Regions from separate parts of the Homo sapiens genome. Here region 1 is linked to region 2. A link means that fine-mapping ties the variant in region 2 to the expression of a gene that starts in the linked region. Tissue or cell type: whole blood. Region 2 holds a variant in brackets; the other region holds the start of a gene. All regions are shown on one strand. Distances are between the middles of the regions.

Region 1 (5,143 bases), 110 kb after region 2:
ATAAACCAGTAGCTAGGGTTTGGGGGTCAAGATGGGATTCTGCAGGAGCACAACATGTGCTGATAGGAGTAACCTAGTAGAGGAGGGAAATGCATGGTGCAGGAGACAGCGACATCCCTGAGCACACAAGAGAGGGCATGCACACATGGAGGGGTGGGCCTAACCAGGGGTATGGAGAATTCATCCACAAGAACACTAAAGAGAGCAGAGTGAATGGTGCAGCCCAGGAAGGTGAGTAAGTGTGGTAGTGGGAGCCTGCTGGACTTCTCTCAAGACTTCTGTTTTCTCAGTGAAATTAGATGGGGAAGGAGCTTCAGGGTTTGAAGAGAGAGAAGGTATGAAATGGTCATCCAGGGTCTCAGAGGGTAAACAGTCTGGAGAGTTGCAACCAGGTGGGCAGGCACCCATAAGGCACCACAAGGGTGAGTGGCCATGGATTTAGAGTGATACCATCAACATAGTGGTGTGTGTTTCTCTCCAATCTCATTCAGCTCTATGGGCGCAAGTGTAGAGCAGGACGAGTGGAATTTTACTGTCAGAAGAGAATGATGAAAGGAGAGAAGCGCAAAAGAGCTGCACCTGTTATGGAGGGTGCAATTATAAGGATGGGTGGGTGAGAGGTAGGTGGGTTATGGTAGGCCCGAGGGACTGTGAAAAGTTGGCAGGAACAATGCAATATAGATGTGGTGAGGCTGGAGAAGAGTTTACGTGGGGCTATGATGGGAAACAAGCTAGAAATTTTGACAGGTGGGAAGCTTGGAATTGAGATTACAGAAAGGGCGCAGTACTGGTAACAACAAGCCCAGCTCATGACCATGGGGCAGGGTGGCAGAGGGAGGATGGCACAGTCACTGCAGGAGTGGAGCCACAGACTCAAGAAGCTGGGGCAGCAGAAGAGTCACCTCAGCAGACCCTGCCATCTCCAGGAGACTATCATGACTCCCCCGAGGGAAGACCACACTTGGTGAGTTCAAGTAGGCCAAAGTGGTTGAAGGGTAGAGGGCGGAGCAAGCAGTCATGGAAGATGAGGTCTGAGGGTAGCCAGAGCCAAGTAATGGAGAGACTTGAAGTCTAATTATGATGGGAAGCCAGTAGAGGGGTTTGAGCAGGGGAATTACATGGTCTGACCTGCTCACCCTGGGCAAGTTTCTTGGCCTCCTGGTCTCACAATAATCTTATGTGAAAGGGAATACTTATACCTATCTTTCAGGACTGTTACGAGGATCTGAGACAACAAACCAGCACCTTCTAGGTACCTGGCACCAAGGTGGCAGCTCTCTTGGTTACGACTGCTGGGTGCAATGACTGCCTGTGCAAAACCCTGTGGGGAGCACGTGGTCTCTGCCCTAGAGCAGAAGGCGATGAGAAAGCAGTATACCTGGGCTGCAGTCCCAGCTCACTGTGACCTTCTGAGTAACTGTGGGCAACTCCTTTCTACTCTTAGGGCCTTAGTGTGCCCAGATAAAACATGCGAGGGAGAGGAGACCAGGGGAACTCGGCCATGTCAAGTGGGGGGTGGTGGGGAGGGATGTGGGAGAGGCTAGAAATGAAATTGAGATGGTAAGCTGGGGTCAAGCTACAGGGCAGGCTTGGATGTCAGTGAGGACACTGGATTTCATTTGTACTCAAGAAAGAACACGAGGAAGCCCTCTCTAAGAGTTTTTTTCAGTGACCCAGACTTAAAAGAAATGATGTTAACAGTCAGCTTTCCAGGGTGTGTCAATTGATATCCAACATGCAGCCAGGACAGGTGATGGCAGGTCAATTAGCCATAAAGACAGGGCAGATGCGACAAAGCCAAACGCATTTAAAATTTTTTCAAATAAAAATAAATCATAAAAAACACACAAAGACACTTTCCAAACAGGTGCACTTCAGAGACACCTGTTTGGTGTCAGAAACAGTGAGGGTGGGAGGAGGTATAAAGTTGAACACCTACGTGCACATTGTATCTATATGTCAGATCCAATGCTTGGAAGCTGCCCATATGTTAATATTAATCCTCATTATAAATCTGCAAAGAGTAGGTCTTACTTTCCTGTTTTACAGATAACGAAATTGAGACAGTGAGTAAAGTACTGAGGTTCACACTGCAAACTAGTAGCAAATATTTGAATTGTCTCCGTCTGACTTCAAAGTCCTTCCCCTTTCCTCCATTCAAAAAATTACGTGTATGTGTTTTCATACAAGACAAGTACCCATCGCCCTAGCCCAGTATGACACTGCAAGGACAGACAAAACACACAGAGTGCAGCCCTCAGTCACCATGTGCTGAATGAGCTAATGTATGTCCCCCTCCACTACCACGCCCAAGACCCCCCGGCGAGCTCCTTCCCCACCGAGGTCCCCATCTCCACCCTGAGGCCAGATGACAGCTAAGGACCTTCCAAGCTTGTGAACACTGCAAAAACTCTCCTGGGACAAGACAATAGGAAAACTTACAAAAATTAAAGCAACCACTGGAATTCCCACTGTTGACTAAAATGACTAAGGGTTTGACCGTCAAGAACTTTTCTGGGCTTTTGGGGTTCCCTCTGGGAGAAGTTCTTTCCGAGTGGGACCCTGACTTGCGTGGGTAGCGCACGGAGGCCGGCAGCCAGGCTAGGGCGCAGGCCTGCCCGCTGTGCGCCCGCGCTAGGATTGCTTGGCGCGGCCCCCAGGCCCCCTCCCCAGCTGCCGCCGCCCCGGAGCGCGGATGCCCCAGGAGGGCAGCGGACGGGGTCCAAACCGTGCCTTGCGGAAGCGCCCGGTGACGACGGCAGAAACGCCTCGTGGGAAATGTAGTTTCCCCTGTCCCGGGAAAGCGGCGCTCTTCTGGGGCATCTCTGGAGCAGGCAGTAGGTAGGGAACGGGCGCCCTCCCAGAAGCTGCAAAGCCTTCAGGGGAGACCCCGATGATCCCCCCAAATTAGAGCCACTTCCTGGGCTTTGGAGGGGGCGAGCCGTTACCTTTCTGCTGAGGAACTCCCTGACCAAGGAGGCGGCCACCTCCTCCACGAAGAGGCTGTCCATGGCTCTGGCTCTGGCTCTGCCCACGAGGCCCACGCCGGGCCGCAGCACCAGGCAACTGGGTCTGTCCGGCGCAGTATGGCCGCGTTGCCGTGGCGACGGCGGCGTCGGCGCGGCAAGAACTCCTCCCCTTCCCTGGGGCTGGCGGGCTGGGGCGGGAGGGAAGGGGTGGAGCGTCCCGCAAACTCGCGTCTCGGAGTGGGAGGCCGCAGTCAGGGCGCCCTGGTGTCGCCTAGGGCCCCGTCCACGGCTCCGGACTCGGGGCCTCACTCTGACCCTGGCCCTGGTCATCTGAGAGGCCTAGGACAAATTACCGCTCCGCTCCGAGGCTCCATTTTCCTAGACATAAAATGGGAAGAATACCTGCCTCCTTGTTTCTGGAGGACTAAACTCACAGGGAAGTGACCCCCTCAGGTCCACCCTCAGCACCACGGCCCCCTCTGGGGCCACCAACGCTACTGACCTTGGCGGGCCTTGACGGTGGGGGCAAGGAAGCCCAGCATTCTGCTTCTTGGGCACCGAAATTAAAGGAGATGTTCCTCGCCCCCTTGGTGCCTGCTTTCCCGTAATGAGACTGCCATTTATTGATCACCAAGCTCTTAACTCACGGTTGCACTTTTAATCCTTACAACTTCCTGGCTAGGTAGTTACTGTTGGCCCCATTCTTTAAAACGGGACACTGAGATTCAGAAAGGCTAAGATTTTGCTGAGGCCCACACAGCTGGGTACTGGGAAAGTTGGGTTTCTAACCAAGCCCAGTACATTTTCCCCGAACTTAGTCACCTGGGTTCCACCTTCACAATCTTTGCCACTTCCGCATGTTACCTATTGTATTCCTTTGCTTGGGCTGCCATACAAAGTACCACAGACCATGTGGCTTAAACAACACATTTATTGTCTCCCAGTTCTGAGGGCTACAGACCAAGATCGAGGTGTCAGCTGGATGGTTTCTCCTGAGGCCTCTCTCCCTGGCCTCTATTATAGATGGCCACCTTCTCCCAGTGTCTTCACGTGGCTAGCCGTCCGTGTGTGCCTGTGTCCTAATCTCTTCTTATAAAGACATCAGTTGTATTGGAATAGGGTCCACCCTAATGACTGCATTTCCACTTCATCACCTCTTTAAAGACCCTATCCAACACAGTCACATTCTGGAATACCAGGCATTAGGACTTCAACACGGGAATTTTTTTTTCTTTTTTTTTTTTTTTTTTTGAGACAGAGTCCCGCTCAGGTGCCCGGGCTGGAATGCAGTGGCGCAATCTCGGCTCACTGCCAAGTGAACAACCACCTCCCGGATTCAAACCATTCTCCTCCCTCAGCCTCCTGAGTAGCTGGGATTTCAGGCGCCCACCACCGTGCCCAGCTAATATTTGTACTTTTAGTAGAGACGGGGTTTCACCATGTTGCCAGACTGGTCTTGAACTCCTGACCTCAGGCAGTCCGCCCACCTCGGCCTCCCAAAGTGCTGGGATTACAGGCGTGAGCCACCGCACCCGGCCCAACACAGGAGTTTTGAAAGACACAATTCAGCCCTTAACCCCTATACAGTTACTTATGTATTATTTTCTTTAAATCCACATACATGTTTTACAATTTATTTTAAAAGGAAAGTGTTCCCAAGCAGTAATAGCCACAAGATCTTGGGTTTTATGTGCTTATTAAATCTCTAATACACATTAAAACAAACACAAAACCAGAAAGGTATGCATTCACCTAAATCACCTTACAACCACCACTGGCACATGTACCACACTTGGGAAGCAACTATCTCACCCTATACAGTCTCCATAGGACGTAGCTTTAATGTGGCAGATTGCACCATAATCTCCAGGCAATTTCCCCTCTCAACGTGCAATGGTTCTTTGAGAAGCCTCTTTTGAACATGTTGTGCTATGTGAGAAAGAGCCATGTGCTCTTATATGTAGAGAGAGAAGGGCAGAGTTGCAGGAGACAGTATGATGCTTGGTCCAGGGGCCCTCATGTTCCAGCTGTGAAGACACACTGATGGATGATGTGTAATAATGAAAGAATAACATGAGACAGATTTATGCTCCATAAGAGATTGTGTATCAGGGGTCCCCAACCCCCTGGGCTGTGGACCGGTATGGGTCTGTGGCCTATTAGGAACCAGGTCA
Region 2 (5,143 bases):
CTTTGTACATGAAAGGAAAGCGACCTGCAGGTGCCCTTAATCCTCCCGACGAAAGAAGCACCAGCACATGACCCTGCAAGAATGCTTCATCCCTGGCTCAGGGGGCGGGCAGGTGGATGGACGAACGGATGGACGGACGGACGGACAAAGCATGTCGAGGATGTCTCGGCGCTCCTCCCATTTCCCCTTCCTGGTGTTTCCACCATGTGAACATTTCTCTTTCTCTGCAGCTCCTCTCAAGGGCTCGCTTTCCTGTGGTGGGCATCAACCCTAAGCTTGCTGTGCCCCCTGGATCTCAGGCAGTAAGCATTGCAGGGCCTCACCATTTTGCATCCCCCGTCACAACCCCAACCATTTCACAGGCAGAGAAATGGAGATTCTCTGAGATCACACCAAATCAGGAGTGGCTGAGGTCATCATCGTGAGCACAAACACCATGGAGCACTTAGTAACGTCCCAGACACTCTTCACAAGGTCCAGTGAGAAAGGTATGCATCACCCCCATTTTACAGATGACAAAGTGGGGTGCAGGAAGGTGAGGTCCAGTGGCTCACACCAAGAAGCAGCAACACCAGGGCTGGAACCCAGGCGACTTCTCTCCAGAGCCCACACTCATAAAGGTTACCAGTTCCACTGCTCCCCCAGAAGGGACCAGGATCCAGGCCTCTCCCTCCCGGGCTGCTCCTCTCATGCACGCTGAGGCCTCTGGGTCATGCCCCAAGGGCTTTGTGAAGGGCCTGCCGGGGCAAGGGGAGCACTTCTGACAGCTACCGCACCACCAGCCCAGGGGCCCACTCAGAGAACACAGCAAGGAGGTGAGCCCCAACTCACCCCAGTTACTGAACATTCCCCTCCCCTGGCCTGAGCCTCAGCCTCCCCTTAAATACAGAGGGGCTGGGTCAGAGGAGTTGAAGCTCCCACCTGCCTCTGAGGCCAGAGGCACACTGCTCAGTGTTCAGAGTGGCGGAGCTGCTCCTCCGGCTCCTCCGCAAGCAGAGGGTGTCGCTCCAGGCAGCACCTCCTGCCACCCCCAGGCTGGGCCAGGCCTCCCAGCTTCCTATCCTGCTCAAGCCTCCCCCACCCTCAGGTAAGCACCCCTGTCCTGCCTCCTTCGGGCCTAACGGTACTTGCCACATCTGGCTGCTGCTGCCTTGAGGGAGGAGGGGCTTCAAGAGGTGCCCATTTAGCCCCCACCCCCAACCATGAAGGCAGTCTCAGAAGCTGTCTAAAGACGCATCACCACTGCAGACCACACACTCCTGAACCTGGGCCCCAGTGACCACGAGTGGAGAAACCTGTGTCTTTCCAATCACCACACCTCTTTGAATCAGGGTGGTCCAGGAACCTATCTGCCTTCCTGCAGGCCTGACCACCCCCAACCATGGCTCCTCAAAGCTATTCAGGGTGAGGCTCAAAGCCAGAGAGGGGCTTGACTCACTTGGTTCTGATGCAGAGCTCGAGGGGTGGGACAAGGTCGTTGTCTGTGTCCTCAGAGATGGTTTGGGTGGTGTCTGGGAAGGAGGAGAGAGGCACACACATGTCACCCAGGGCCCTGCACTCACCCTGAGGTCAGCGCTGACCACTCCCGAGACCCGCCCCCTTCTAGTCCCTGTCCCCTCCTCTCCATCTCAACTGGACCCACCCTCATCCCTGACATCCATTCTCACCTGCACAACTCACTGGTCCCCACCCGTGTCCCACTTTAGCTACCACAATACTCTTTCTAAAAACACTTCTGATCTCACCACCCTGATTCCAAAACCTTCCATGGCTCGCCACTGCCTGAAGAATACATCCAAACTTGTCAGCATAGTATTCAGGGCTCTTTACCATGTGGTGTAGGCTTTACCCAACGCCCTTAATGCCACTCACTGCTCAAGGCCCAGCTCTGGCCGCCTCCTGCAGGGAGGCCCTGCTGGCATTGGCTCTCTGATCCCCCAGTCTGGATGCTGGAGTCTGCACTGCTCTCTGTCATGGGGGTTGGTGGTGGATAGGAAGGCTGGTTTCTGTGACCAGCCTGGAGGCTCCTTGGGGACAGGGTTGGGTGGGTGGGGGGGTGAGGGCCCGCACCAATGGTCAGCCGGATCTGCTCCTGCTGGTTGGCCAGGCCATCGTAGTAGTACAAGTCAAAGAGCCTCTCAGTCCTCCAGTCACGCAGGAGCCCCGGCTGCAGGCTAAAGAGGATGCTGAAGTGGCTCTCACTGCAAACCACCCAGATGGGGAACCTCGGGGTCTTCAGGAAGCAGCCAACCTGGATGAGGGAGAGGCCTGATGTGAAATGCCGTCCCCAGGGAAAGGGGTCCGGGCATTTTTCTGTCTGACTCAAGGCAGGGCTGACCTCAGAGAGGCCCTGCTGAAGATCACGTTTGTGTCTGATGCTGGGAGCCCCTCACGCTGCTCAGGCCACTGGGCTGTTTCCCAGGGCCATCCCTGCCCTGCCACCCCACCTGCTGCTGCTCGCAGGGCCTCTGCCATACAGACCTGAGACCCGGTATCACTCGCCCCCTCATCCCCCACATCTAATGGTTCCCAGTACTGCTCATTCTGCATCCAAGAGCTCCCCCACTGCCAGCCTTTCCTCCTGAGATCTACTCAGCCTCCAACCTGCACCACGGCAGTGACCTCCTAACCAATTCTTCCCACACCCCTCAAACAAATTCAGCTTGTCCACTAGCCTAGAGCTTGCTTACCGTTGGACAGCCTGCATCTCCCAAATCCCTTGTTGGAGCAGAAATAGTTTCCTCCTTCCAGTTCCCAGGGAGCACATCACTAGGTGCCCAC[C/T]CACCTCAGCCGCAGCACCTCTGCCTCATGCTCGACAGATCATACCCTTAAGTTCCAGGAGCCCGGGGTAAGTAAATGTCGGGTGAATGAAATTCCTCATGGATGAAGCAGGACTTGAACTAGAACTGCACGGTAAAGACAACTAGGAATGGAGCCCTGGGGAGCCAGGAGGGAAAGGTCTGAGTGAGAAGTCTGTGGGGGTGCCAGGAATGGAGGGACAGAGAAATTCAGGGTGCAGCAGGGCACTGAGGTTGCAGCAACACTTGGATAAGGAGCATTCCAAGCAGGGGAATTTCACATGGTGGAAGTGTTTGTGGAAGAAGACACAGAGGAATAAGCACCAGGGCCCTCAGCACGTTGCTAGCATCTTGACTACAATGGGAAGAGAAGTGACAAGGGCCCCCTGTGAAGCCCCTGAATGCCTGGCCTCCATGCACTTTCCCCCAGCCCCTGACACTTCTTGGCCAGCGCCTCTCCTGACCCTGGGCCCTGGTTTATCCAGCTATGTACGTGCCACGGGCCAGGCTGATTCTGGCCTAATCCCTACCAGCCCCAGGGAGATGTTTGCATGCTCAGGTATTTACAGCTACAGCCTGTGGATTAAAGAAAGAATGGGAATTATTTTTCCAGTGGGGAGAAGGGCATACTTTTTCCAGAACCCTTTACAGGAGAGTGGGTGAGCAGCTCCCATCTTGATCTGGGATGTCTCTGACAGAGGGGCTGTGCTCTGAAGGTCCTGAACCAGGTCCCCAGTGAAATTCCTGCACATTTAAAGCTGCCTCCTCCAGAAGGTAGGGGGACAGTCTTTACAACGCACTCATCCTTTCTTACGGTTCAAGTGTCCCCTCCCCCCACACCGAAGCCTCACCCCAGCCCTGTGTGCCATTGAAGTGGACTGCAGAGCTCATTCCTTAGTGAAGTGTGGGGGAATTAGATGTCTTACAGGACGTGGCTGGACGTGCCTAAACCCCACGTAAACTTGGCTTCCATTCCATGCTTCAAAGAGGCTTTTCTGGTGAGGGCATCGCCAGGAACAGGGAACCCTGACACAGGGACCCAGCATTCATTCACGGCAGGGAGAGAGTCCCAAAGCCAACCAGGGAGCAGGCCTTTGCATAATCAGCCACCCTGAATTTTCCAACGGAGAGACAAAAGTGCAGCTTGCCATGCAGAAGTAACAGTCGAGAGATTAAGGGAAAAAAGCTGCCCACAGACTTTATAAATGAGTTTCCTCATTCAGGAGCCTCTTTCCAAGTGGGTGACATTTTCCAGAGATGAAATTCACTTCCTTTAAATTCTTGGGTAACCAAAGGCTTGGGGCAAGGCCGCAGTCGGGGGTGGGGGGGGGTGCGGGGGAGGGCCACATTTCCTACAGCACAGTCTGGGACTTTGTCCTGGTGGGGGAACATGTAGCACAATTAGGGATTACTTAATCTTCTAGGGCGGGGGTTGTGAATGGCCTAAAGCCATCCATGGACAGCCAGGTTAGAAGCACTCACTTCAAAGGGTCAGCATTTACTTGCGTAGAGTTATGGTGTGGCATTTCTAAGGAACAGCAATGGGGACATAGTGCTAGAGACAATAAGAACAGTGCTGTCCTTATGGAGCTTACCAGATTGATGGGGATGACACATTAATTAAATAATCAAACCCACACATTTCCACTGCACTTCAGTGAATCCAGGATGCCCTCAGATTCGCCATTATTTTTTGTATCACTAAGTAAGAAAAAGCAGGTGTGTCAAAGTCTGACACACCATCAACTGTAACAATGCATCAGAATTTCAGAAGTGCTCAAATGTGGGCAAGTTTGCATCTTAAAGGCGATGAAATGCGATGCTTAAAATCCAGAGGAGGCCCTATGAAGGAAAGAATTAAGATACCCTGATGGTGATTGACAAGGTATGGAGGGGACAATGAGAAGGACCCCCTACTTAGATGGGGTTATGAGGGCAGGAAAGGCTGCCTTTTAGGAAGTAACGTTTAAGTCAAAACGATAACAGGGAAAAGCTGGGCAGGTGGAGGGTGCAGCGTGCACAAAGGCCAGGAGGTGGGAGAGAGCCCGAGAGAAGCCCCAGCCTGCGGGAGAGAGTGGTGCGGGCTGAGGTGGGAGAGGAAGGCAGGTGCAGGTCTGGCAGGGCATTGGGGGTGGTGAGAAGTTTTGGATTTTAGTTTCTGCATTAGTCTGCTCGGGCTGCCATAACAAATACCACGGACTGGATGGCTCAGACAGCAGACATTTATTATCTCAGAGTTCCGGAAGCTGGAGGTCTGAGATGTCACTAGGGTTGTTTCTGAAGGCCGTGCCCCTGAGCTTGTAGATGGTTGCCTTCTCCGTACCTTCAGAAGGACTTCCTGCTGT

What was found. PIP is the estimated chance that this variant, and not a neighbour inherited with it, causes the effect.
Region 1: it holds the start of MINDY4, and the variant in region 2 is fine-mapped to the expression of MINDY4 in whole blood (TOPMed, PIP above 0.99).

Annotation. Positions count from the first base shown.
Region 1 is chr7:30,769,362-30,774,504 of GRCh38, reverse strand. MINDY4 (MINDY lysine 48 deubiquitinase 4) reads right to left here and starts at 3,088. Exons shown (of 18, transcript NM_032222.3): 1 at 2,949-3,088. The coding sequence starts at 3,011. The region is part of intron 3 of INMT-MINDY4 (INMT-MINDY4 readthrough (NMD candidate)); the gene reads right to left. RefSeq lists silencers at 2,528-2,677, 3,048-3,097, 3,158-3,207 and an enhancer at 2,678-2,972.
Region 2 is chr7:30,879,289-30,884,431 of GRCh38, reverse strand. It overlaps MINDY4 (MINDY lysine 48 deubiquitinase 4), which reads right to left. Exons shown (of 18, transcript NM_032222.3): 16 at 2,071-2,251; 17 at 1,439-1,511. INMT-MINDY4 (INMT-MINDY4 readthrough (NMD candidate)) reads right to left here. Exons shown (of 20, transcript NR_037598.1): 18 at 2,071-2,251; 19 at 1,439-1,511. Among named protein-coding and RNA genes, the nearest start is that of AQP1, 30 kb to the left of the region's middle. RefSeq lists an enhancer at 1-388. The variant C/T (reference allele first, on the strand shown) is at 2,782.